Linked DNA regions of Homo sapiens. The protein of the gene in region 3 purifies or fractionates together with the protein of the main gene of each other region. This does not show direct contact. Each region holds a gene or a part of one and is shown on either strand. Other genes may lie near its edges.

Evidence for each region.
Region 1: the proteins of RNPS1 (region 3) and U2AF2 purify together in Homo sapiens (co-immunoprecipitation; 7 studies listed by BioGRID and IntAct, with this or other methods). This does not show direct contact.
Region 2: the proteins of RNPS1 (region 3) and SNRNP70 purify together in Homo sapiens (co-immunoprecipitation; 8 studies listed by BioGRID and IntAct, with this or other methods). This does not show direct contact.
Region 4: the proteins of RNPS1 (region 3) and CAMKV purify together in Homo sapiens (affinity purification with mass spectrometry; 4 studies listed by BioGRID and IntAct, with this or other methods). This does not show direct contact.

What each region holds. Positions count from the first base shown.
Region 1 is NC_000019.10:55,650,791-55,658,034, forward strand, and holds the start of U2AF2 (splicing factor U2AF 65 kDa subunit), read left to right. Parts: upstream 1-4,244; 5' UTR 4,245-4,314; coding exon 4,315-4,363; intron 4,364-7,244. Other genes in the region: CCDC106 (coiled-coil domain-containing protein 106), read left to right, coding at 493-705, 1,640-1,956. UniProt on the Homo sapiens protein: Plays a role in pre-mRNA splicing and 3'-end processing. By recruiting PRPF19 and the PRP19C/Prp19 complex/NTC/Nineteen complex to the RNA polymerase II C-terminal domain (CTD), and thereby pre-mRNA, may couple transcription to splicing.
Region 2 is NC_000019.10:49,088,425-49,095,450, reverse strand, and holds part of SNRNP70 (U1 small nuclear ribonucleoprotein 70 kDa), read right to left. Parts: intron 5,161-7,026; coding exon 5,098-5,160; intron 4,986-5,097; coding exon 4,931-4,985; intron 1-4,930. UniProt on the Homo sapiens protein: Component of the spliceosomal U1 snRNP, which is essential for recognition of the pre-mRNA 5' splice-site and the subsequent assembly of the spliceosome. SNRNP70 binds to the loop I region of U1-snRNA.
Region 3 is NC_000016.10:2,252,614-2,258,146, forward strand, and holds the end of RNPS1 (RNA-binding protein with serine-rich domain 1), read right to left. Parts: intron 3,114-5,533; coding exon 2,972-3,113; intron 1,451-2,971; coding exon 1,351-1,450; coding exon of another isoform or gene 1,284-1,350; 3' UTR 507-1,283; downstream 1-506. UniProt on the Homo sapiens protein: Part of pre- and post-splicing multiprotein mRNP complexes. Auxiliary component of the splicing-dependent multiprotein exon junction complex (EJC) deposited at splice junction on mRNAs.
Region 4 is NC_000003.12:49,859,883-49,866,908, forward strand, and holds part of CAMKV (caM kinase-like vesicle-associated protein), read right to left. Parts: intron 3,779-7,026; exon of another isoform or gene 3,493-3,778; intron 2,521-3,492; 5' UTR 2,507-2,520; coding exon 2,412-2,506; intron 2,295-2,411; coding exon 2,163-2,294; intron 1,984-2,162; coding exon 1,909-1,983; intron 1,696-1,908; coding exon 1,557-1,695; intron 1,419-1,556; coding exon 1,298-1,418; intron 1,137-1,297; coding exon 1,061-1,136; intron 971-1,060; coding exon 834-970; intron 668-833; coding exon 589-667; intron 377-588; coding exon 289-376; intron 1-288. UniProt on the Homo sapiens protein: Does not appear to have detectable kinase activity.

The DNA.
Region 1 (7,244 bases), on a different chromosome or scaffold from region 3:
TAGAGGAATCTGTGTCTGGGCCTCCGCCTGCCGGCTCCCTCTGTCTAGATGGAGGTGGGACCCAGCCTGCTGGACCCAGGGCCCCTGATTTCTCTCGGTCTGACCCCCCGACTCCAGCCAAGGCCTTGCCTGCCTCCTGGGTTTCCAGAGGCTACTCTCCAGAGGTCCCGCCCAGTCCCCAGAAATTTCTCCCTCCCCTATGGGAACCGCGCATAGTCACAGGGGTCCTGAGGCCCCTGGTCGGCTGCCTCCGTAAGACCTCTTGCCAACCCAGGCCTCTGAGAAAATGCTCCACCCATTACCACCTCCCACAGACCCCAACTGGCTCTACTCAGCCACCAGCGTCTCTACCGTACTCCTTGTCTCTCTGTCTCTTTAGGGGACCAGCCCAGGTTGGGGGATCCAGTTCGGGGACTGCAGCCTCTCTCAGTCCCGGGACCTGTGATGGGATGTCTGGTCCCTTGGTTCATGTGTGTGTCTCCATCTCCCCAGAGGACCACTGCCGGATGAAGCCTGGGCCCAGGCGGATGGAGGGGGACAGCCGTGGTGGGGCTGGGGGCGAGGCCTCGGACCCTGAGTCAGCAGCCTCCTCCCTCAGCGGAGCGTCCGAAGAAGGCAGCGCCAGTGAGAGGAGGCGGCAGAAGCAGAAGGGAGGTGCTAGTCGGAGGCGCTTTGGGAAGCCCAAGGCCCGGGAGAGGCAGCGAGGTGAGTGGGGTGCATGGGGCGGGCGCTGAGGGGCCCGGGCTGCTGAATTGCTGTGTGTCCTTCCCAGAGGTCCCCCTTTCTCTCCAAGCCCCTCCAGCCTTGCTGGAGAAAGACCCACCGGGTTCTGTCTCTCCCTCCTCCACGTGTGGTCCTGGGTTTACTTTCTTTTTTTTTTTTGGCGGGGGGGACGTCTTGCCCCGTCGCCCAGGCTGGAGTGGTGCAGTGGCGCATTCTCACCTCACTGGAATCTCCGCCTCCCGGGTCCACGCCATTCTCCTGCCTCAGCCTCCCGAGTAGCTGGGACTACAGGCACCCGCCACCACGCCTGGCTAATTTTTTGTATTTTTAGTAGAGGCCAGGGTTTCACCGTGTTTGCCAGGATGGTCTGGATCTCCTGCCCTCGTGATCCACCTGCCTCGGCCTCCCAAAGTGCTGGGATTACAGGCGTGAGCCACCGCGCATGGCCTGTCCTGGGTTTACTTTTAAGTTTTGGTCCACCGTCGAGGGCAGGGCCACCTTGGGCACCTCCTTAACTTTCATCAGTAAGGAGGAGGTGCGCAGTAGGACCTACCTCACGGGGAGGGTGAGACTTGAATAAGTGAATTCACCTGAGGCAGGGAGACGAGGGTGATGGCTCGGGGTGTCGGGGGGTGCTGGGACCGCGTGGGTTGAACCCGGCCTCTTGGCTCATTTTGTCTCCTCACTCTCCTTCCTGGGCCTGCCTCTTCCCATTTCCCACTGGTCCAAGATCTGGCTGCGATTCTTCCCCTCCTCTCTGCCCCTTCCTTGCCTGTTGTTCTCCGTCTCCACCTGCACCGGCCCGTGCCTCTGCTCGCCGAGATCCTTTCTTCCCATGGCCGTTTCCCTTCCCGTGTCCGCCCCCTCAGTCTTGTGCCCTGCCCCTCACTTTCGTGTCCCCGCCTCCACCCCTCAGTGAAGGACGCCGACGGGGTCCTCTGCCGGTACAAGAAGATCCTGGGCACCTTCCAGAAGCTCAAGAGCATGTCGCGGGCCTTCGAGCACCACCGCGTGGACAGGAACACCGTGGCGCTGACCACGCCCATCGCCGAGCTGCTCATTGTGGCCCCCGAGAAGCTGGCCGAGGTGGGCGAGTTCGACCCCTCCAAGGAGCGCCTGCTCGAGTACTCCCGCCGCTGCTTTCTGGCCCTGGACGACGAGACGCTCAAGAAGGTGCAGGCGCTCAAGAAGAGCAAGCTGCTGCTGCCCATCACCTACCGCTTCAAGCGGTGATCGCACCACGCCTCCGCGCCTCCACCCGGGCCTTCCTCCCCCGTGGACCCCGGTGGATGACCTGCCCCTCTCCCCGCCGCGCCCCTGCCCCTCCTCCTCGCTCCCTGGGTTGGGGGCTCCCTTAGCCGGGCCCCCAAGCGCGACGGCCCCGGACCGGCCGCGGCCCCTTCCCGAACGCCGGCACCCCCTTCCGCTTGGGCTGCCCAGCCCTGTCCTCGCCGGGCCCCTTCCTCCTGGAAAACCAGGCAGGCGGGTGCCCCCCCCTCGAGTGGGGGACTGTACAGACCCCGTCTCCGCCCTGGCCCCGCGGAGGAGCTGCCCACCTGATTCCCGGACAGACCTCCCCAACTCCGCGTGAGACAGAGAATTATTCAGATAATTTAAATTAAAAAACGACGTGAAAATTTGGAATAAACTTGGCCTCAGCCTCTTCCTAGGAGGGGGACGTGCCTGGGAGGGGGCGGCCGTCGCCCCGAAGACGGTGACGGGGTTGCGGGGGCTTCCAAGGGGGTGGGTGGTCAGGCGGGAGGACGGGTAGGATACGGTGTAATTAGCCCCCCGGAGGCAGAGATGGAGAGTGAAGCAGCTGCGCCCCAGAAAACTCGGAGGCAGAGCTCGGGAAAAGAAGCGCGGACACAGCCGGGCGCGGTGGCTCACGCCTGTAATCCCAGCACTTTGGGAGGCCGAGGCAGGCGGATCACGAGTTCAGGAGATCGAGACCATCCTGGCTAACACGGTGAAACCCCGTCTCTACTAAAAATACAAAAAATTAGCCAGGTGTGGTGGCGGGCGCCTGTAGTCCCAGCTACTTGGAAGGCTGAGGCAGGAGAATCGCTTGAACCCGGCAGGCGAAGGTTCCAGTGAGCCGAGATCGCGCCACTGCACTCCAGCCTGGGCGACAGAGACTCCGTCTCAAAAAAAAAAAAAAAAAAGTAAAAAGAAGCGTGGACACTACCCGCTGGGCTACCCAGACCGGAGCGCGGCGCGAGAGGCGTGAGTCGATGACCTCTAGCGAGGGAGGCCACCTAGCGGCCAGGCCAAGTCTGGAGGATACTTCCGTTGGGCCGCCAGGGGGCAGTAACGCCAGATCATCTGTCTCCCGGAAGTAATGCCAGATGATCCGTCTGCCGCGCCTGCGCGGCGGGAAGAGCCGGAGCGCGTTGATGTGGTTGCCGAGACAACCAAGAGGGTGGCCGGATTTAACGGCTGGGGATTAAGCACTTTCACCGTTGTAAGGGAAATCTCGCGCACGCGCAATGGGGACTGAAACCTGGTCCCCGCAACCCCCTTCACGGGAGCAGTGGGAGAGCGCGCCACAGAACGACTTTTACGCAGGCGCAGAAGCCTGTTTCCCCTCACCCGCGGCTTCCACCCTGCGCAGGCGCAAAAAGCCGCGCTGGCAACCTCCGCAGCGGTCGCGCGCACCCTTCATCCCTCTTGCTGCTTTTGTCTGGCACAACCTTCTCAGGCCCTCCGCGAGGCCGGCCCTTTTTTTCTTTCACTTTCCCCACCCGGAGAGCCAGGTGCCGAGAACTAGGACCTCGTCCCCTTCTCTATCCCTTCCCCTGATCCATCTCGTCTCTGTTCTCCTTCCCTTTTCCGTTCCCGAAGCCGGAAGGAGCCGAGGTACCCACGGAAAAAGTCGAAGCTGTCCCCGGAGAGTGAGGCCTTCACGAAGCGGTGGCGGAAGGAGCCGAAGTTCTCTGATCGGAGGCGTGAGCAAGTGGCATCTCCGGAAAGAGCCGAAACACGGACTCGAGCTTAATCCCAGGAGGGGCCCGAGGGCGAGATCCGGAAATCTCCGGAAAGAGCCGAAGGCCGGGACGGTTAGGATTGTCGGAAGTGGCCGATTGCTTGGACAGGGCCGGCGGAGAAGATCGGAGCAAGTCCGTGGAAGAAGCCAAAGACTGGGACGGATTGAATTGTTGGAAGAACCCGAACTCGCAGAGGGGACTGGGCGCAGTGGCACACGAGGACACACGGAAACCTCCGAACGTTGAGGAGATAATCTCGGAAAAGTTACGGAAACCTGGGAAGTCGGCGAAACCCTACGTTCGGGTGTTTTCGGAAGCAGCCGAAGCGGCCGCCTGCTTCGCCTTCGTCCAGTATCCGGAGATAGCCGAGGCGCTTCGGAGCCAGGCTCGGGGGGAGGGGCAAGCTCGCGGGCGGGCGGGCGGGTGAGGGGGCGGAGCCCGGGCGGGGCGGGGAGGGCTGCCGGAGGCTTGATTAGGTAGGAGGTGGCGAAGCGCCGGCGGCGGCCGGAAGTAGCCGAAGCCAGCGGCGGAAGTAGCCGAAGCGGCTGGAGCGGGCGGCAAGGCGAGGCGAAAGCTGCACAGGGCCCTACGCGGCCGCCTCAGCATGTCGGACTTCGACGAGTTCGAGCGGCAGCTCAACGAGAATAAACAAGGTGAGGGCACCGGGGTCGCGGGGCGGAGGTGTGGGCGGCTCCTCGCGTCGCTCTTTGCCCCCCCGCCATTTTCTCCCTCGCTTCCCCCCACTTCACGGCCGCGCGGCGCCCCCCAACCCTGGTTCCGTGGCGCGCGCCTCGTTCACGTGACGTCCCCAGCGTTCCGCCGCGCGCTAGGCGAGGGGAAGGGGGCGGCGGGGCGCGGGCCCGTGACGCATGCGCACGGCGGCTGTCCCTGCGCCCCACGTGGTCCTGGCGGAGGTGGCGCGGGGGACGCGGCACGAGCGCGCCAGATGCCTCGACGTGAACTTTTGTTTTTTAAAATCTTTTTGGTTTCTCTGAAAAGGAGATTATGTTAGTCCCCGTAATCTCTTTTCTCCCGCTGCCTTGGCACTTCCGCTTCCGGTCGGGCCCACGGCAGCGTCTCCACGCCCCCTTTGTTTCCAAAATGGCGGTTGTGAGAACTTGGTGGGGGGGCCCCTTTCCTTCCTTCACGTGGATGAGGGCAGAGCCGTTTCGGCGGATGCTTGGAGGCCACGGGCCCCTCGCGTACCCCTTTTCCTTTTTGCTGATTTGCTCTGATCTCTCCCGCCAGGTGGTTTCTGCCCCGTCTGTTGGTAGTGGGGCGCCTCATATTAACGTGTTTGGCACATGTTGCCTAAAAGCATCTGCATTCTTTGAGTGTCCGCACGCACACATCCTGCATATGCGGGGCTTTTGGCGGTCCCGAGAATCGCGATATGGAGTGTTTGAGACAAACCTCAAATCATTTACAATCCCAATCTCAGGGCACCTGATAATACTCAGTCTCAGATCTCAATATAGAGATAAGAAAACAGGTTCTGAGGGAGGAAGAGGGATCTGGCCCACTGCGCTAAACTCTTCACTTACGGGGAAGGTGGGAGGCAGGTTCCCTTCAGGGTATCGAAAATTGTGATGGGTTAGAACAAAAAGCCTGGGGCCCTGATCTTAGGGATTCCAATAATATTAGAAGTGGGAGAGTTGTTAAGACGCTTTAAAAATCCTCCGTGTTTCAGTTTGTGAAGAAATACAGGACCAGGGAAGATTGGAGACTTGTTTCTTTTCAGGCTTCAGCTGCCCATGTTCCTAGCTCGTTCGGAGGACGAAATGAGGGCTGAGGAATTTTCCTTTGAACCCGGGCTAGAGTTGGGTAGGGGCTGTATTAGGAAACAGTGTCCTGGGGAAGCAATAACGTTTACTGAGGGTCTGACTCTGTCTTAGTTGATGGACTGCTCAAGAGCATAGGCTTTGGAGTTGAGCACATCAGGAAGTTTAGATACCTGCTTTGTCGTTTAGTAACTGCTTTTAATACGTTTATATATTTTTTTCCATTTGTAGACTGATTATTATTTTCTTGTTACCGGATTTTGAGAAGATTAAAAAGGATGATAGTAACGATAGATGTAGTTAAACTCTGAGCGCTTACCGTGTGCCAGGCTCTTCGCTAAACTCTTAGCATGTTTTACTAAGTGGATCCTTTTAACAGCCTTGTGAGGCCAAAATGATTTCCACCTCTACTGGGGAGGAAACTGAGGGCTCAGAAAAGTTAAAAACTTTCTCAGGGCTCAGCTAGTCAGAGGCAGAGCTGAGATTAAATGGGGTAACATGTAAAGTGTGTGGCATGTGGCTTTGCGTACACTGGGTGTGCAGTAAGCGATATTTGCAATTGTAAAATTCCATGCTTAGAGAGGAGGGTCTTCCGCTCACAGAGATTGTGTCAGAGTTGGGAAAGGGCAGGAAAAGGTGCTTTCCAAATGTCATTCTGCCACACAACACCTGGATGGAGTAGATACGACCCTCGTTTAAAGAGAAAACCAAGTCTTAAAGGCTAAGTTGCTTTTGCATGGTTTTTGTTGTTCATAAGCAGAAAAGCAGGTACTGATTCTGAGCTCTGGCTGCAAGGCCAAGTTCCACTCTGCTGGACCAAGTGGAGCTGATTGGGCGGTTCTTTGAGGCTCTCAGATGGTGCTTCACCGGTTCTCCCGGGGTTTCCCTTTTGGTGCTGGTAGGGCAGTCCCTGAGACCTGGCACGGCTCCTGGGTTGGCGGAGCTGCTCCCATAAGATGACCACAATACAGTGTTTTGAGCAAACGAAGCTCTCATTGTTTTTACCTGTCCAGCATCAGTGTGTGGGAGAGGGTTCTTGCCATAGGGGAAGCTCTGCCCGCGTGTCACTGCCTGTAGTCTTTGTCTCTGCGGAGGACGGGCCAGCTTCTGTACGTGTCGCCTTCTGCTTCAGTCCTTTCCTCTGCTACCTGTATCTACAGGGAATTTCCTTGTCTATATCCCAGGCACCCAGCGGGCATCATTGCTTTCTCTGCGTGGGTTCCTGTCTGCCTGCTTGCCTGTTTCAGAGCCTTAGCAGCAGAAAGGGCTCTTGGGGCTCACAGCCTGTCCATCTTATAAGCGAGGAGCTGTGCCCAGTGCCGTGCCTGTGTGCCCGCTGCTCTACACTGCTGGCCTGTCCTGCCGATTGTTCCTCCCAATTTCAGTTTTTGATTTTGGGGTTTTTGGCCTTCAAGGGGACAATTATATTGTCATTAATGGTTCTAGCCAGACCTGAGTGTTCTGCCTGATCCACATTCGAGAGTATGGCCTCGTGCTTAACTCACTGATGTCAGAGTGTTTAAATTCTGGTGTCACCATTTCCTAGCTGTTTGACCTTGGTAATTGTGATCTCTCTATACCTTAGTTTCCTTACCCATTATGTCAGCCCCCAGCAGTGTTTTTCCGAAGCAGTAGTGAGGATTAAGAACAAACAAAACAATTTAGTACAGATTCCGGTTGTAGGAAGCATCTCAATATTTGTTGCTGTTTTTTTCCCTGCTGGGTGCATATTTTTCTGAGTGTTGGTGGTTTT
Region 2 (7,026 bases), on a different chromosome or scaffold from region 3:
AAACGGGTGACTTTACAAGGCAGGTTAGAAAAAGCCTCACAAGATGCTAACATTTAATGAAGAGCTGAAAGCTGTCACAGCAGCAAGGAAACACACCCGGCAACGCCAGACAGCAGGCATTCTAACAGTTACTGTGGAGCATGACAGTGGGACCAATGAATGCTGCAGGGCTGGGGAGTGGACGAAGGCCAAACAACAGCTGAGCTTCCTGAAGGGCAGCCAGAGGGAAACCACCCCAGCACACTGTGTGAGTTCCCTGGAGCACTTGCTTACCCGGGGTGGGGGGGCCACAAATGTGACTAAAGGTAAAAAGCAAATGCAGCAAAGCAATGGTACCCCCAAGTCCTGAAGATAGAGAACAAAAGCTCAAAGAAGGTAGCACAGACCCAATGCCGGGCAGCGCCCCACAGCCAGCGTATGCGTGCAGCGCCCTGACGGCAGCTCTCCCTCAGGACATCACTGGTTGAGGGCTCATCTAAGTAGCAGCCCAGAGCAGAGACTCAACGGAAGTGGGTCGTGGAGTTGGGAATTAGGCTTTGAGGTACTCGAGGTCCCATCTTGGAACTCTCACTCTTTGGAAGCGTGCTTGCCTCAACAAGCCTCCATTTCTTTATCTTAAAAATGGGAGTAGCAACCCCTGCTGCACTTGGAAGCTGTGAGAAAGTCAGTAACACCAAGTACAAGCGCTCAGCAAGGAGGCACCGTCCCCTTGACGGGAGCTGTTCATTGTGACAAGGCACAGCAAGCTTCTATAGCTATGAGTGGAGGCTCTCAAGGGCACAGAAACCCTACTGAACTTGATCCATTCTTTTATTTCTTTTCTATTATGGAGAAGTTCAAGCATTTAATGGAGGCAGAGCAGTATAACGAACTCCCATGAGCCCGCTTCCATTATCAACACGTGGACGGACTTGTTTCATCCCTATCCTCCCACAGCCCACTGCATTTTTTTGAGACGGAGTCTTGCTCTGTCACCCCGGCTGGAGTGCAGTGGCATGACCTCAGCTCACCCCAACCTCTGCCTCCTGAGTTCAAGTGATTCTCCTGCCTCAGCCTCCCAAGTAGTTGCAATTAGAGGCCCCTGCTACCACACCCAGATAATTTTTATATTTTCAGTTGAGACAGGGTTTCACCATATTCACCACTCGAACCTGGATCACTCAAGTAATCCTCCCACCTCAGCCTCCCAGAGTGCTGGGATTACAGGCGTGAACCACCACGACCGGCTGGATTATTTTAAATGAAATTCCAGATAGCACACCATTTTGGTCTCTAACAAAGGCTTTTAAACATCATAACCACAGTGCCACTATTACATCTTAGAGTTAACATTTACTAATTCCTTAACCTCATCTATGATCCAGTGTTCAAATTCCTCAATTGGAACTTTTTTGTTCGCCCAATTGGAACTTACTTGTTTGTTTTTTGAGAAGGAGTCTTGCTCTTATTGCCCGGGCTGGAGTGTAATGGCGCTATCTCTGCTCACTGCAAACTCCGCCTCCCGGGTTCAAGCAATTCTCCAGCCTCAGCCTCCCGAGTAGCTGGGATTACAGGAGCCCACTACAATGCCTGGCTAGGTTTTGTTTTGTTTTTGTTTTTGTTTTTGTTTTGGTATTTTTAGTAGAGATGGGGTTTCACCATGTTGGCCAGGCTGGTCTTGAACTCCTGACCTCATGTGATCTGCCTGCCTCAGCCTCCCAAAGTGCTGGACAACAGGCATGAGCCTCCGTGCCTGGCCTGGAACTGTTTTTTTTTTTGTTTTTTTTTTTTTTGAGATGGAATCTTGTTCTGTCACCCAGGCTGGAGTGCAATGGCGTGATCTCGGCTCACTGCAACCTCCGCCTCCCAGGTTCAAAGGATTCTCTTGCCTCAGCCTCCCGAGTAGCTGGGATTACAGGTACACATCACCACGCCGGGCTAATTTTTGTATTCTTAGCAGAAACAGGGTTTCACCATGTTGGCCAGGCTGGTCTCGAACTCCCAACCTCAGGTGACCCACCTGCCTTGAAGGATTACAGGCGTGAGCCACCACGCCCGGGTGGAACCGTTTTTAAAAAGCATTTCTGGCCGGGTGTGGTGGCTACGCCCTGTAATCCCAGCACTTTGGGAGACCGAGGCGGGCAGATCACCTGAGGTCGGGAGTTCGAGAACAGCCTGACCAACATGGAGAAACCCTGTCTCTAAAAATACAAAATTAGCCAGGCATGGTGGTGCATGCCTGTAATCCCAGCTACTCAGGAGGCAGGGAAATCGCTTGAACCGGGGAGGCAGAGGTTGCAGTGACCCTAGATCGTACCACTACACTCCAGCCTGGGCAATAACAGCAAAACTCCATCTAAAAAACAAAAAACAAAAAATGAAAAACACTTTTGGCTGGGCATGGTGGCTCACACCTGAAATCCCAACACTCTGGGGGCCGAGGCAGACAGATCACCTGAGGCCAGGAATTCAAGGTTGCAGTGAGCTATGACTGCACCACGGCAGTAAAGCCTGGGCAACACAGCACGACCCTGTCCCTAAGAACAAAACAAAACACAACAAAAAAAAAAGAGGCTGAGCACAATGGCTGACACCTGTAATCCAGCACTGAGGGAGGCTGAGGCAAGAGGATCACTTGAGCCCAGGAATTCAAGACCAGCCTGGGCAACATAGTGAGACCCCGTCTCAGTTTTAAAGTTTTTCCAAAAAAGAAAAAAAAGAAGACCCACAGTGGATGTGGTTGGTTAAGATATAGACAAACTAGGCCGGCTGCGGTGGCTCATGCCTGTAATCCCAGCACTTTGGGAGGCTGAAGCAGGTGGATCACCTGAGGTCAGGAGTTCGAGGCCAGCCTGGCCAACATGGTGAAACCCCATCTCTACTAAAATTACAAAAATTACCTGGGCATGGTGGCGCACGCCTGTAGTCCCAGCTGCTCAGAAGGCTGAGGCAGGAGAATCACTTGAACCCAGGAGGCGGAAGTTGCAGTGAGCTAAGATAGTACCACTGCACTCCAGCCTGATTGAGAGAGCGTGACTCCGTCTCAAAAAAAAAAGGAGGGGGGTGACCAGGCACGGTGGCTCATGCCTATAATCCCAGCACTTTGGGAGGCCAAGGTGGGCAGATCACAAGGTCAAGAGATCTAGACGATCCTGGTCAACATGCTGAAACCCCGCCTCTACTAAAAATACAAAAATTAGCTGGGCGTGGTGACGCACGCCTGTAGTCCCAGCTACTTGGGAGGCTGAAGCAGGAGAATCACTTGAACCTGGGAGGCGGAGGGTGCAGTGAGCCAAGATTGCACCACTGCACTCCAGCCTGGCGACAGAGCGAGGCTGCCTCCAAAAAACAAACAAACAAACAAACAAACAAAAAGACATAGGTAAACTAGTTAAGACTGTGACTGTGTTGTCTAGGCAAGAGGTGACCTGGGTGGTGATGATGGACATGAAAAGAAGGGTCAGATTTGTGACATTTAGAAAATAACACAAATAGGTCTTGGTGAGAGGCTGAGCAAAAGGTTAGAAAAGGTGTTAGAAACAAACTGCATGGCAAAAAATGAGGTCATGACCGGCACAGCTGAATGTCTATGTCCCAGAGAAAACACCCAAAGGAAACCAGGTTGGTGGCGAGGGAAAACCCCTGTGGTTTGGACACTGAGTCTGAGATGCCTCTGAGGCAGGACATCAAGACAGCGTTCCGACAGCCAATGTCCAAAGAGTGCACCGCCAGATGTCTCTGTCACGCTTCTGCGTAAGCACCGTGAGGAAATCCTGCACTCCAGGATTTGGAGGAAAGGGATTCATCAAAGTTCACAGGTATAGGAGGAAAACCTGTCTTCTCACTAGAGTCATGTTCTGAGAAGTGCGTCGTTTGATGATGATGTCGATATGCCAACATGAGATGGCACTTCCACGAGCCTAGACAGCATACCTAACACTCCTGGGCTAGAGGGTGCGTCCCACTGCTCCGAGGCCAAGCGTGTTACTACACCAAATACTACAGCAATCCTAACACAATAGTAAGTATTTGTGCATCTAAACGTTATCAAAGCATAGAAAGGGTACAGTAAATAGACGGTATAATCTTTTTTTTTTTTAAGACAGATTTTTGCTTGTTGCCCAGGCTGGGTTGCAGTGAGCCGACGCGATCCCGGCTCACTGCAACCTCCGCCTTCTGGGTTCAGGAGATTCTCCTGCCTCAGTCTCCCGAGTAGCTGGGATTACAGACGCTCGCCACCACGCCCAGCTAATTTTTGTACTTTTAGTAGAGACAGGATTTCACCACGCTGGCCAGGCTGGTCTCGAACTCCTGACCTCATGATCCGCCTGCCTCGGCCTCCCAAAGTACTGGGATTACAGCGTGAGCCACAGTGCCTGGCAAAATATGATATAATCTTATAGGATCACCATCACATCCACGGTCCCCTGCTGAGTGAAACACTGCTATGCTGCCTGTGACTGTACAGTTTTCACTTTCAGAATAAAGAGCCACTGGAGGTTGACATCTGACCCTCTTATGAGTTTGGTTAATGGCAACAACACACCTGTCTTGTACTCCAATTCCTCCTCTATGTGGAGGGGATGGAACATCCTCAGCCCAAGGGTTGGGGACCTAAGGTTAGAGCCAGGACAGACCACTATCCCACAACCCACCACTTCAGCCTGTGACACCCAGCTGGGTTGTGGGAGCCCCTTAACTGTCCTCCCATGCAGGAGGAGCCCAAGGTACCAGGGGTCTCCCTTCCTGCCAACTTTTACCCTATGTTCTGCTGCTGAAAAGCCTAAACCAAAAACAGTGCTTGTGAAGTGGCAGGGGCTAAACAAATGAACTAACAACCCTGTTCCCCACAACACAGGCCTTAGGGAGACAGCAGGGTCCTGGGTATGACCTGGGAAGAATACAGAGGGTTTGGGAGAGGAGAGAGCCAAATGGTGGATGAGAGACTTACACATTTTAAGCTCTGTCTCCACTTCTTGCTGTCGCCGCTCAATCTTTTCCCGTCTCTGTCAGGAGAAAGGGGAGGTGGAGAAGTGAATGCAGATAGAAGTGCCCTAGTGTCAAGGATCATCTGGAGACAGTGGTAAAACAGGGGGTCAGGAAGCAAAAATGACATACTTTCCTCTCCATGCGCTCCTCTCGGGTTTCAGCACGAGTTGGAGGAGGGGCATCTCGAGGGTCCTGGGAACAAGAAGAGAGGTGACAGGGTGGGAAGGACTGGGGGAAATGGCAAGGGACACTCACCAAGGAAATAAACAGGTTAACCCTCCCACCCCCACCCCCTACAAAAATAAACATCCACGCACACTTCCCCTGACACAGTGGAGGGAGGGGAGTGGCACAGATCAAAGCAAGGTCTGCAGCCACGCACAGTGGCTTCCACTTGTAATCGCAGCACTTTGGGATGATGACACAGGGAGAATGCTTGAGCCTAGGGGTTTCAGACCAGCCTGGGACAACACAGTGAAACACCATCTCCACAAAAAATTTAAAAATTAGCCAGGTGTAAAGGCCGGGTGCAGTGCACACGCCTGTAATCCCAGCACTTTGGGAGGCCGAGGCAGGCGGATCATGAGGTCAGGAGATCCGAGACCATCCTGACTAACATGGTGAAACCCCACCTCTACTAAAAATACAAAAAATTAGCCGGGCGTGGTGGTGGGCGCCTGTAGTCCCAGCTACTCGGGAGGCTGAGGCAGGAGAATGGCATGAACCCAGGAGGCGGAGGTTGCAGTGAGCCGAGATCGCACCACTGCACTCCAGCCTGCACAACAGAGCAAGATTCCGTCTCAAAAAAAAAAAAAAAAAAAAAAAATCCTGTCTCAAAAACTAAGCATGGTCCATGGACCAGTACTATCTAAACTGTTGCTGGACTGTGATAAGTACAGAAACCAGGACTAAGTGTTCAGGAACTTCTACAGTAATTTCACAATTTGATGTCCACTGACTCTTAATACAAATTTGGTCTTTTATTCTGTAGGTCTTTTTTTTTTCTGAGACGAAGTTGTGGTCTGTTGCCCAGGCTGGTGTGCAATGGCGCGATCTGGGCTCACTGCAACCTCCGCTTCCCAGGTTCAAGCGATTCTAAGCCCTGCTTTCCCCCCTGTGCCCGTCTCTCTAAAAGGAACCCAGCAACTGACTAGAATCGTTCAAGCGGTTCTCCTGCCTAAGCCTCCTGAGTGAGTACCTGGGATTACAGGCACACGACAGCATGTTGGCTAGTTTTTGCATTTTTAGTAGAGACAGGGTTTCACCATGTTGGCCTGGCTGGTCTTGAACTCCTGACTGTAGATCTTTCTTTAAAAAGTAATTCTATCATATTTATCAAAAGCAAACAGATTGGAAACAGTATCTGTCCTTCACCAAAGACAGTTTGAAAAGCACTGGTACAGGTGACATCTAGCTTTATAGTATTTAGGAAACACCCTGTCTTCCATATTTAGGAAAGACATTGCTTCTCACAGCTCCAAGTATCACTCACATTGAACAAAGTGCCAGAGGATGTGATGGGAGTGGAGTGATGGCAGGGCCCTGCTTATGAGTGCCAGTGAGGATGACCAGGCCTAAAGCAACATAAGCTGACAGAACAGGGCTCCAAAGCCCACAACTGCACACCCTCTGAGGGCCAAGGCAGCTCTTAAAGGTCTCATCAACCACACATTAAATAGGAACTGGCTGGTAGGGTGCAGTGGCTCATGCCTGTAATCCCAGCACTTTGGGAGGCCAAGGCAGACAGATCACAAGGTCAGGAGTTTGAGACCATCCTGACCAACATGGTGAAACCCCGTCTTTACAAAAAATACAAAAATTAGCCAGGCATGGTAGCGCGTGCCTGTAATCCCAGCTACTCAGGAGGCTGAGGCAGGAGAATCCTTTGAACCCGGGAGGTGGAAGTTGCAGTGAGCCTAGATCACGCCACTGCACTCCAGCCTGGGCAACAGAGCGATACTCCATCTCAAAAAAAAAAAAAAAAGGTCGGGTGCGGTGGCTCACGTCTGTAATCCCAGCACTTTGGAAGGCCAAAGTGGGCAGATCACAAGGTCAGGA
Region 3 (5,533 bases):
ACGCCGTCTCTACTAGAAATACAAAAAATTAGCTGGGCATGGTGGCAGGTGCCTGTAATTCCAGCTACTCAGGAGGCTGAGGCAGGAAAATCACTTGAACCCAGGAGGCAGAGGTTGTAGTGAGCCAATATTGCGCCACTGCACTCCAACCCAGGCAACAGAGACTGTCTCAAAAAAAAAATTAAAAAATTAAAAAAAAATTAGCCCCTGCTACTCTGGACACTGAAGAAGGAGTTGGAGGCTGTAATGAGCTATGATCGCACCATGGTACATACTCCAGCCTGGGTGACAGAGCGAGAGTCTGTCTGAAAACACACACACATTCCAAGGTGGCGATAAAACCATCTCCTTCTATTTGTCCACCCTAGGAGCAACCTGGTCCCCACAGCACACAAACCCTAGGTTCTCCTGGCTGAAAGCATCGGAGGTGCCACTGCGGATGGTGAGGAACAGAAAGTTACTAGGGGCGAGGGGACAAGTGAGAAGGCAGTGAACCCAGAACTAGATTTGCATTCCGATCTTGGGTTTATTCAACACAATTCTTCCACTCTACACAACAAAGTACAAACACAATGTCATCTAAAATGCTACAAAGGTATAAAACTCAAAAGAGAAATTTTATAGTACTGACTGTACAATGAAAGCAAAAAAGAAAAAAAATAAAAGCAATGTACATGTTGCCAAGATAACCTGAAAGACCACCATGAACGGCAGGCACAACCATGGCTGCGTGATGACTCCGCAGAGCTGGCTCTCCACTCACTCGCCAATTTCAGAGTACAGTGGTGGGGTGCGGTGTGTGCATCGGTGCACGGACAGACAGAACCACGAGCAGCAACTACCATGGGTGAGAGGATCTTTGAGGGGGTGTGACCCTTGAGGTCAGAAGAGGCCTCGAGAGGCCAGGCCTAACAGGGTTGGCAGCTGCACTAAAGCCTGGGGCAGCTCCCTTTCCAAAAGGACACTGCCCAGCAACAGCAAGGGCACGGCCTGGCCACCATCCCAGGTCATCGGGGAAGGGAAAAGTGTGCTCCCAGGTAAGCAGGGTCAAACCACCCCCAAGAGCCTCACTTTTCCCTGGTGGCTCTGCCACTGAACTGACTCTTAGAAACCGGAAACGGATGAGCTTTCTAGCCAGAAAACCGGAGGGAATCTTGACAGGCACACAGCATCCAAACCAACAGCACTTCTGCAGCCGGGGCCCGGCTGGCAGAGGGGTGCTGCCTGCTGCCTGCAAATCCTGCCAGAGTCAAGGGTTTGCTTTCCTACTGGTCTTCCTTTGGCTAGAAAAGTGACAAAACTGAGCTGGGTGGGGTATAAGTTACAGGGGCGAGAGCTTCAGTGGCCTGTTTATCGGGAGGAGTTGGAGCTGGAGCGGCTCCTGTGGCGGCGGCGGCCCGGGGACCGTGATCTCCGGCGCACGGGGGACCTGCGCCTCGGGGAGCGGGACCTGCGGGAAGAGGAGAAACCACATCAGAGTAGCTCAGGCTGTAGGGGCAAGCTAGCTTCTTTCTGGGCAATTCCCCATAGTTTTACTTTTTGAGATGGAATATCACTCTGTCTCCAGGCCAGAGTGCAGTGGCACGATCTCAGCTCACTGCAACCTCTGCCTCCAGGGTTCAAGCGATTCTCCTGCCTCAGCCTCCCATGCAACTGGGACTACAGGCGCGCGCCACCACGCCCAGCTAATTTTTGTGTGTGTATATATTTATTTTGAGATGGGGTCTCACTCTGTTGCCCAGGCTGAGTGCAGAGGCGCAATCTCGGCCTCCCAGGTTCATGCCATTCTCCTGCCTCAGCCTCCCGAGTAACTGGGACTACAGGCACACGCCACCACGCACAGCTAATTTTGTTTTGTTTTTTTTAGTAGTGACGGGGTTTCACCGTGTTAGCCAGGATGGTCTCGATCTCCTGACCTCGTGTTCCGCCCACCTCGGCCTCCCAAAGTGCTGGGATTACAGGCGTGAGCCACCATGCTAGGCCTAATTTTTATATTTTTTGTACGGATGGGGTTTCACCATGTTGGCCAGGATGGTCTCGACCTCCTGACCTTGTGATCCACCCACCTCAGCCTCCCAAAGTGCTGGGATTACAGGCGATTGCTACCACACGTGGCAAAGTTTTACCTTTTTTTTTTTTTTTTTTTGAGATGGAGTCTCACTCTGTTGCCCAGGCTGGAGTGCAGTGGCATGATCTTGGCTCACTGCAAGCTCCACCTCCCGGGTTCACGCCATTCTCCTGCCTCAGCCTCCCGAGTAGCTGGGACTACAGGCACCCACCACCACGCCCGGCTAATTTTTTTGTATTTTTAGTAGAGACAAGGTTTCACTGTATTAGCCAGGGTGGTCTCGATCTCCTAACCTCGTGATCTGCCCGCCTCAGCCTCCCAAAGTGATTACAGGCCTGAGCCACCATGCCTGGCAGAAGTTTTACTTTTTAATACTAGAAGTTGGGACAGGTCCCACCTGATGGGCCTGCCCTGAGCTCTTGGGAACGGGTGCTTGTGAGACCCAAGGCAGAAGCCCAGGCTTTCCTCCTCTTCCCCAAAGGCTGAAAGCACAGCTCACCACCGGCAACGGAAGACCAAACTGTGGCCTCTGCCGAGGGATTACCACCCCCGCCCCACAACTCTTCTGACCCCCAACTTCTCCCTCTCCTAGCTCTTCTTGTTAGCTCAGAAAAAGGTGGGCCTGCACCTGGGCTCACAGGTCTAGTGGTCTCCTAGGAAGGCCACACCACGCCACTGCCCAGACTCAGAAAGCTGTGTTGGTGCAACTCTAGGGCGTCTCCTGCCTGTGGCTTACTGCAGCTGTGGCCCTCCTGCTCTCTCCATGAGCTCTGAAGGGCTCCTGCTCTCTGCCAGCCCGCACAGCAGTGGAAGGCAGGCAGGGCTGAATAAAGGGTCTGAAAGTCACTGCGGTCACATGAGGTTTGTGGCCTGATCAGTCCACTGAAACTACAAATTGTTTACCTTCTCCTCATCCGTGGGGGAGACCTGCGCCACATAGGCGGTGGTGGCAACATTCTCCTGGGAGGGCTGAATCTCCTGGGGGGTGGCCTAGGCCAGGGGGCCAGCACGGCGGTGGCAGTGATCTCCTGGCCATCAATTTGTCCTGTTGAAAAAGACAGCAAGTCATAAAATATCTAACAAGCATCTACCCTAGACAATGCATGCCACAGTGAAAGACAGGCCTGGGGGGACAATGACAATGTAAGATAATCACAGAAACAGGGCCGGGCATGGTGGCTCACTCCTGTAATCCCAGCACTTTGGGAAGCTGAGGCAGGTGGATCACGAGGTCAGGAGATCGAGACCATCCTGGCTAACATGGTGAAAATGTCTCTACTAAAAAGACAATAAATCAGCTGTGCGAGGTGGCGGGCGCCTATAGTACCAGCTACTCGGGAGGCTGAGGCAGGAGAATGGCGTGAACCCGGGAGGCAGAGGCTGCAGTAAGCAGAGATCGTGCCACTACACTCCAGCCTGGGTAACAAGAGCGAAACTCCGTCTCAAAAAAAAAAAGATAATCACAGAAATAACATCATGACTAATGTTTCATGAGGAAAAGAGGCATAAAAACTAACAGGACACACCAATCTCCACGTGTCGAGGCAGCCTCCCAGGTCAAGAGTCATCCAAGTCAAGAGCTAAAGAATGTGCTGGAGGCCAGACGCGGAGGCTCACGCCTGTAATCCCAGTGCTCTGGGAAGCCAGGCAGGCGGATCACAATGTCAGGAGTTCGAGACCAGCCTGGCTAACATGGTGAAACCCCATCTCTACTAAAAATACAAAAATTAGCCGGGCGTGGTGGCGTGTGCCTGTAATCGCAGCTACTCGGGAGGCTGAGGCAAAACAATCTCTTGAACCCAGGAGGAGGAGGTTGCAGTGAGCTGACATCATGCCACGGCACTCTAGCCTGGGCAACAACTGAGACTCCGTCTCAAGAAAAAAAAAAGAAAAGTAAAGAATGTGCTGGAATCTGCTAGGTGGAAGAGAAGGGCTATGCTGGGCCCTGTGCTGGGAAGGACCCAAAGCACTGGTGAGAGAAGGTAGCATCGAGAGCGAGTGACAGGCAAACAGAAGGCCCCAGGGCCAGGGTGGGGCTTCCTCGCAGGACCATGCAGGCAGTATCCGCGTTTGCGCTTCCTTCTCCTCCAACCAAGGGAAGCTGGGTCTGGGGCTAAGAGAAGTGGGAGAAGTTCTCTTAGGAGGGCTCTGCAGCACTGAGAGGGGCCTGAATCAACATCAAATGATTTGGCAGGGAAACGGAAGGATTCAGGGGACAGCTGGGAAGTAAAATTGCCAGAGCTTGGTGATGGATGGGATGGGGGTGGTGAGGTGTGAACTTCCACTGACGGAGAGGTGGGGCTGCGGTGGGAAGCTGCATGAAGGAAATTTTAGGAGATGCCAAAGACTTTGTGTTTGGAAACAAGCAGTCTCAGAGAGGTGGCTCTGCATGTAGATGGCACTGAAACACACGCCATGTGCATGAAGCGAGGAGAGGCAGTGTGGGATGTGGGCTCCAGGGAGAGAGGAAAGGAAATAGAGGTGCAAACCCAGGAACCCCAGGGGAGCATGCACCCCGACCTCAAGAATTGTCTGGTAGCTGGGGATACTGGGAGCCCAAGCGCAGCCCCTTCTGTGCCCTAAGGGGTAAAGGGCTCTTTTGTTTTCTCAACTACCTTTAAGGCACATGGGGACTAACTCCGGCATGTGGCTATGTATTCAGAACATACTTAAGAGGTTTAACTTCAGTAAACTCAGCCTAAGTTAGCCCAAATTAGGGATTTCACAGCACTGACTCTATAATAATGAAGAAAAATCCATCTTCTGTGTAGCTGCCAGTAAAGGCCAACCCCTTCTCATCTCCTATGGAGACAGCATGGACTCACTCCATTCAAAGACAGAAGGGGAGACACACAAAAAAAATCCTACCAGAATCTTACGAAAAGTTGGAATGTCTGTAATCACGCCCACCCAGAAGGTACCCGGGTCCCCTGGGTTTTTAGCTCAGCAAGCACTCAGACTGTCAAACAGCAGATAATCAGCAGACTCCACAGCAAAGGTGTGACTTACAAGGCCAACAGCTGATGTGAGCGCACAGAGCTCCTAACCCATTTCAGGACTTAAGAAACTTGAAAGAAAAGTTAGCCAAATATCAAGGAAACTTTCCTAATGCCTGAAGGGCAATTACTGAAAAAAACCAGCTAAGCTACTTATACAGTTTGTAACAGGGCCTCGGAAGACGGAAAGTTCTGGGGCACGCACACTCCACTCCCCACCAGGCCTGGCAGCCCAGACAGCACTGTGGGCTGTGTTCTCAGTGCCAGCGGCCTCAGTCACAGCAGCAGGGAGTGGAGCAGAGATGACTCCACATGCCTCAAAATGCTGCACTGAGGACAAAATGCCACCCGAAACTATTCACAAGGGTCCATGTGCTTTTAAAACCATTCTGCCAGATACAAATAGCTATAAACGTCATGAGTGGTTATGAGATACAAGTGTTTAAGAAATAAACTGTATAGATTCAGT
Region 4 (7,026 bases), on a different chromosome or scaffold from region 3:
TGAAAGGAGCACAGTGGAGAAAGGCTAAGGGTGAGGCTTGCTGGATCCATTGCTTGGCAGTGACCAAACCAAACTCCTTCCATAGTACCCCCGGCCACCTCCATCCACCCCAGGGCCAAGTACTCAGCTGCTCAGCACTCCTACTTAAGGTAATCACAGTGGCTACACCCACACCTGATGGCCTGAGAAAAGCTTGTGTGTGGCTGCAGGGGTGTGATGCAGGCAAGAAACTGAGTGCCAGAAGCAATACTTGGGATAGAGCCAAGAAGGGAGTTATCCAAGCCTTACCTTCCACTTGGCCCTGGCAAAGTTCTTTTCAATCTGGGCACAGACACCATCCTTGATGTTCTTATCAGAAGCAGCATTGCCAGAAATCCTGGAAAGGGTGCAAGTGTGTCTGGATCTGAGAGAATGAGCCTTTGTGGAGACTCTGCTCAGCCCTTCTATGTGGCATCCAGGGACTACCAGGCAGAGCCTCTGGGCTGCCCTGAGCTCTAGGTACCTGCACCCCTTCCAGGCCTCAAAGATGGGGCTGCTGGGTGTGAGGGGGACCCTGGCCTCTCCCACCCTCCCCTGGACCCTGCTCACCACTCATGGGAGATGGCCTCTTCTGCAGTGATCCGCTGGTCTTGCTCCACCTCCATCAGCCTTGTGACCAGGTCTTTGGCTGTGGACAAAACCAAGAAGGGGATAGTCATGGGCACCCCATCTCAATGTCTAGAGGTGATAAATGGGCTGGGGGACAGAAGCAGAATACCACAGAGGAAGATGAGAGCAGGACACCCTCCCCACTCCCTTGCGTTCTACCAAGTGCTGGGCAGGCACCTCCTCACCTGCCTGCGAAATATCATCCCAATATGGAGAGTCAAACTCATAGTCACCAGCCAGGATCTTGCGGAAGAGATTCTTATCATGGTTCTCATAATCATCTTCTTCCACCTCCTCATAGAAAGGTGGATTGCCTGAAAGCCTGCATGGGGGAAGGGTCACACAGAAAGGCCACAGACACATGCCCCCACCCCATCTGACTGCAAGCCTGCTTGTCCATCTGTCCACTCACAGGATGTACATGATGACTCCAATGGCCCAGCAGTCCACAGGGCGTCCATACCGCTGCCGGCCTACCACCTCTGGGGCTACAAACACAGCGCCCATCTGCTGGTCAGTATCAGGCCTAGCCAGGTCCAGTACCATCCACACCAGCTTCCTGAGATGAGCACATTTTCCCCCTGCCCAGAGCAGCTCCCTGAAGGCTGCCCCCCATTATCCCCCTGCCCCTGCCCCACCCCCTGCTTGCCCAGATACTCGGGGGTCCCACAGGGCTCCTTGATGAGGCCATTTTCTAGCTTAGCCAGATGGAAGTCACTGATGACAATCTTCGAGTTCTTCAGCCGGTTGTAGTAAACCAGGTTCTCCAGCTGTGGTGTGAGAATAGCATGTGGGTGAGCAGAAGACACCATGAGGACCTTGGAGGCTAGACCAAGGCCCTGAGGTGCTGCCCACCCCAGCACCAGCCCAGCTGCCAACTGGCCCTTTGACTCTGGCTCTGCCCTCACCTTGAGATTCCTGTGCACGATCTTGAGTGAGTGCAAATAGGCCACGGCCTCCAGGACTTGCCGTACCACGTTGCTTGTGTCTCGCTCCGAGTAGTAGCCCTGGTCCAGGATCCAGTCAAACACCTCCCTCCCCGTGGCCCTGAGGGACACCAGCCCCTGAGCCTGGCGTGGGCAGAATCAGGGGTAGGGCAGGAGCACTTGGGTGAGCTGCCTACGCCAGGCAGCTGGCTGAGCAAGGCACAGGGACCTGGGACGCCAAGGGTCCAGAAAGGGGGTTTCCTTAGCTGCAGAGGGTGGGACAGGTGAAAGCCCTGGGCGCTGGGGAATCTTGGGTCCCCAGACCCACACTCACAGCTCCAGGAAGATAAAGTACTCCTTGCGGGTCACAAACACATCCACCAGCTGTAGGATGTTGGGATGCTTCACCCTGGCGACAGGGAGGGGAGCCAGTAGTTAGGGCTGGATGAACCCCTGGGAGAGGCTGTGGTCACCACAGTGGCCACAGCAGACTAATTGGCCAGAGGCTGGGACTGCCTGAGGCCACTTGCCCTCTAAGCCCTTCCCTGCTGCCTCCCACCCCGCCCCAATCCCAGGCCTCAAACTCACATCTTGAGGATGCCTATCTCGTTCTTGGCAGCTTTCCGCACCTTGCGGCCGTCCCGCTTCTGGAACTTCTTGCAGGTGTGCAGCTTGCCTGTCGTCTTGTCCTTGGCCCGGAAGATTTCACAAAACTCCTCACTGCAGCCGACAGGCACCCACTCAGGCCTGGCCTTAGCATCAGCTGCACTCCACTGCCACTTCCCTAGCCCCTGCTCACCAGCCCACCCAGCCTTGCCTGACAGGCCCGGCACTCACGTCTTGATGACCTGTCCCAAATCATATCTGTCAGTCACCTCCGATGGCTGGTTATAGTTCTTCTTGTCGCCCAGAGTCACACACCCAAACGGCATTGCCAGGCTCTAACCTGCGGGCACAATGGGGTCTGGCTTAGCTGTACTACTCTCCACTTCCCCACAACATAGGGGCTGCTTTTGGGAGACCCCAACCTGGCTCAGGCCAAGCTAGGGGCAGAGACCATACCAGGAGGGGCTAGAGGATAGGCAGGCTTAGATCCTACCCCTGCTTTTCTGGCTAGACATCCAGCTACTCAGCTTGGCTGCCTGAAGTGCAACAGCCTACATATGAAAAAATGTATTAAGCTGATATATAAGGGAATAGTTTTGTATTCTATACATTCAAAAAAAAGGCTTATCAAACAGTTTATTTAAATTTCAGCTATTTTACAGATGAAGGGGGCTATAACCACCCACCCACCTGCTAGTCATCTCTGAAGGTCTAGAGCTAACAAGTGTTAGTGGATATATGAAGAACGTGAGCACTGCTAGGAGAGGGCAAACTCCCCTTTGTAAAGCAGTTTGGTAAAACCACTAAAGTCAAACAAACATACCCTATGAACCAGCAATTGCACTCCTAAATACGTGCCTACAGAAGTGCACATATTCGTGCATCAGGACAGTCATACAATGCTCATAGTAGCCATATACATAATCGCCAAAAATTGAAAACAGACCAAATACCACCACCAACAGGATGTATTGTGGTAGAGTCACACAATGGAATATTATATAGCAATGGAAACAAAGGAGCTACAGCTATACCCAACCACCTGGTGACTCTTACACAGTGTTAAGTGCAAAAAGACACAAAAGAATACATATAGTATGAGTCTATTGATAGAGTTCAAACAGGCAGAACAAACCCGTAAGGGGGATACAAACACAGCAGTAGAGCTATAAAGAAAAGCTAGGAAATAAGCAGAGTCAGATAATGGTCCCTTCTAAGAGAAAAGGAGGGGTTATGATTGATTCAGGACACATGGGGGGATTCTGGAAGACCTATTTCTTTTCTTTTCTTTTCTTTCTTTCTTTCTTTTTTTAGAGACAAGTCTCACTATGTTGCCCAGGCTGGAGTGCAGTGGCTATTCATGGGCACAAGCCCACTACTGATCAGCACAGGAGTTTTGACCTGCTTCGTCTCTGACCTTGGTTGCTTCACCCCTCCTTTAGGCAACCTGATGAGCTCTAGCTCCCAGGAAGTCACCATACTAATGCCAAACTTAGTGTAGACACCCAACTGGCATAGCGCACTGCAGCCCAGAGCTCCTGAACTCAAACGATCCTCCCACCGCAGCTGGGATTACAGGCACCCGCACCATGCCCAGCTGTTCTGTCACCCAGGCTGGAATGCAGTGGCACCCAGGCTGGAATGCAGTGGAATGATCACAGCTCATTCCAGCCTCAACCTCCTGGGCTCAAGCGATCCTCCCACCTCAGCCTCCTGAGTAGCTAGGACTGGACCATAGGTGCACACCACCACAACTGGCTAATTTTTAAAAATTTTTTTGTAGATACAGGATTTCATTACGTTGCCCAGGCTGTTCTTGAACTCCTGGGCTCAAGTGATCCTCCCACCTCAGCTTCCCAAAGTGCTGGGATTACAGGCATGAGCCACCATACCTGGCTTGGGTAAATTTTTTAAAGTTTACATACTGATGTACCCTCACAAACTCTTTTCTGGAAGAATACTGAAGGAAATAAGAGTTCTCTCCTGGGCAAAGAATTGGATGTCAAAAAGGCAGACATATCTTTTGTTTACTAATTTTCTGTGCGAATTTTTACTATTTTACTATAATGACTTCGATGAATTTAGTAAATACTGCACTCAGGCACAGTGCTTGGGGGATTCCTCAGAGGGATAATCTGGGTGGAGAGGCAAGGTAAAGCTTTGGAGGCAGCATTAGGACTCAGTAGGAAAAGATTTGCCAGGAGGTATGCAGGTGTACTGGTCAGGAAGAGCAAAACAAGCCTGATCCTGGTCCCAGCTTTCGGCTCTGCATATGCATTCATGCCCACTGGGGCCCACAGGGGACCTGGGCTGTCAGGTCCAGGTGCAAGGCCCCCAAACAGAACAGATATAGCTGGCTCAGTGAGCGCTAGGCACTCTTTCCACCTGGGGCACGGTGTCCCACAGGTCTGCAATCCTGCCAATTACAGCCCAATCCTCATCTGTAGTGCTAGGGGGGCTGACTCCAGTGTCCAAAGGAAAAGGCACTCATAGCCCATGCTCAAAGCTGGGGGTGGGGGGTTACTGACTAGACCTTCACAGATCTGACGCCAGGGTGTGCCTCCATAATACCCGGTCAGTGTGACACTGGGGCTACAGCAAGCTCTGCACTGAGGCTGCGCTGAAATTGCTCTGCCTCTGCTGACTGTGCATGTTTTCCCTCCATGCCAATTAGCACTTGCTGTGTGCAGGGCCTGAGCTAGGGCCTGGGGGTACCTAGATGCTCCCCGACCTGAAGGCACTCACAGCCTCAAGGTAGTGGAGAAGGGAGGAGGCAAAGGAGGCAGCTTGGCAAGATGAACTCTGCCAGCCAAAGTCAAAGACCAGGACCCAAACGAGCCCCATAGCCAACCCTGGCTGCTACTTGCTTCCTCCCAGGCAGAAGCCAGCCACCAGGCTGTGATTCCCAGGAGTCACAGCCCTGGAAATTCTCCCTCAGATTTGCCTTCAGCATTAGGGAACAAACTCTATCATTCCTTCATCTGGGTTGCTTGGGCTCAGGGAATACAAATGCATTTCATCAGCATTATTCCAGACAGGGTTTAAGCCATCTTGCGAGGCACAGCAGAGACAAAGGAGAGGCTTTGAAGATCGTCACTGACTGCATGTCTGCCACCATGGGCACAACCCTGCACTCCTCCACTGGGGAGAAGCATGTGGCCAGAATCCCATCCTCACAGCTGAGAGCAGAGGCATAGCCAGTTACCATTGCCGGCTACACATTTTCACACCATAACAGCTGCAGGAGGGGGCCTGCAACAGTCATCTCAGTCTGAGGGCCGTGTACTGGGCAGGAGGATGGTACCTTAGCCTGCAGTCTCCCAAGAAGGCTGGGAGGGACCTGTGCCCTGGCTCTGTTGCTTTGCTTACACCATTCCCTCTGGCAAGAGTGCCCTTCCCCCAAAAGCCTCCCGTCAGATTCCTATTTGTCACGGCAGAGTTATTTATAACATTAAAAAAAATTCAGCAACTACCTAAATGTCCAACAACAGGTGACTCGCCAGCTCAACTGTGTCCACTCAATGGTAGGAAGTGTGGGCACTGGCAAGAGCTCTGCCCACCTTGGCTTTCCTGTGGAGCAGCTGCCACATGAGCGAGGTGCTGAGAGCAGAACTGAATCTCTTCTTTCATTGTGATTTCTGACATTATAAGGTGGTTTGTGCAACACATTGTCCAAAACAATCCTGATGCTCGAAGGCCAGACTCAAAATGGCCCTTTTCTGAGATACCTTCCACAACCTCCATGCCCCACCCCCCACCCCACTCCAACAGCTCCCAGCTTTGCCAGTGTGGCGTGGGTGGGAGGTTTTGTGCATGCCTGTCCTTGATCCTGGCCCCAGCTTTCGGCTCTGCATATGCATTCGTGCCCACTGAGGTCCAGGGCTGGTCATGGGGGTCTGTCCCATGAAAGGCACAGAAAACTGGGCCTCCACCCCGTAATGTCAGCCTGGAGCCATGTCCTGAAGCCTCAAGGCTGAGATGGGAACAGATCTGTCTCCCCTGCCCCCTACTATGGCTGCCCAAATTTCAGCCAGTCACTCCTCCTCCTCCTCCTCCTCACCAGTCTAAGTATACTGGCTTGGGGCCCTGGACTTGGCCCCAGGGCAAAGAGAGGAGAAAGAGGGGCCTGGCTTTCAATTAGCACCTTGGTTCCCTCTGCCCACACCCACTCCACCATCTGCTATCCACTGTTGCTCCCTGGGAGGTTTCGGGTGTGTGCACCAAGCCCTGGGCACCTGCTTGCAACAAAGGAGACCTGGGAGGAACAGCCAAGGGACAGCTCTCAGAAAGAGAGGAGGCCAAGTGGAAGGGGTTTGTATTTTTCACCCCCATGGCCCAGACCCAACACCCAACAATGGAGAGCTCTCCTCTCAGCAACACAGGATCTGAGCTCTTCCTCAGGTACACTTAGGCCATGGAAGGGCATGGGAGCTCCACAACAGCCATTTCCCTGGAGACATGGCTCCCTCCACTCTCTGCAGAGGAACTGAACAGTATGCACTACCGGCTGCCCAGAGGGAGCTTGTGGGGAGTGCAGGCCCTGGTGCGGCCATTGCCCTCCAGCTGGCTCTCATGGAGCCTGAGAGCCAAGCACTCCCCAGTTATGGCCTGCTCCCAGGGCCTGACCACTGGACTCAGGGAATTGAGCCTCCAGCAATCCTGAGGGGTCCTCTGTTGGTGCCCTGGTGATAAATGGTCCCCCAGGGACTCTGCTGCATCTTTAGGTAAGTCTGGCCCAGGGAAAGCCCAAACGGGACAAAGGCCAAGAGGTCCGGAGGCCCCACATTGGGGTCCTGTCCCCTCCTCCGCTGAGATCATCCTGGTTCAGGCCCTACCTTTCATAGAC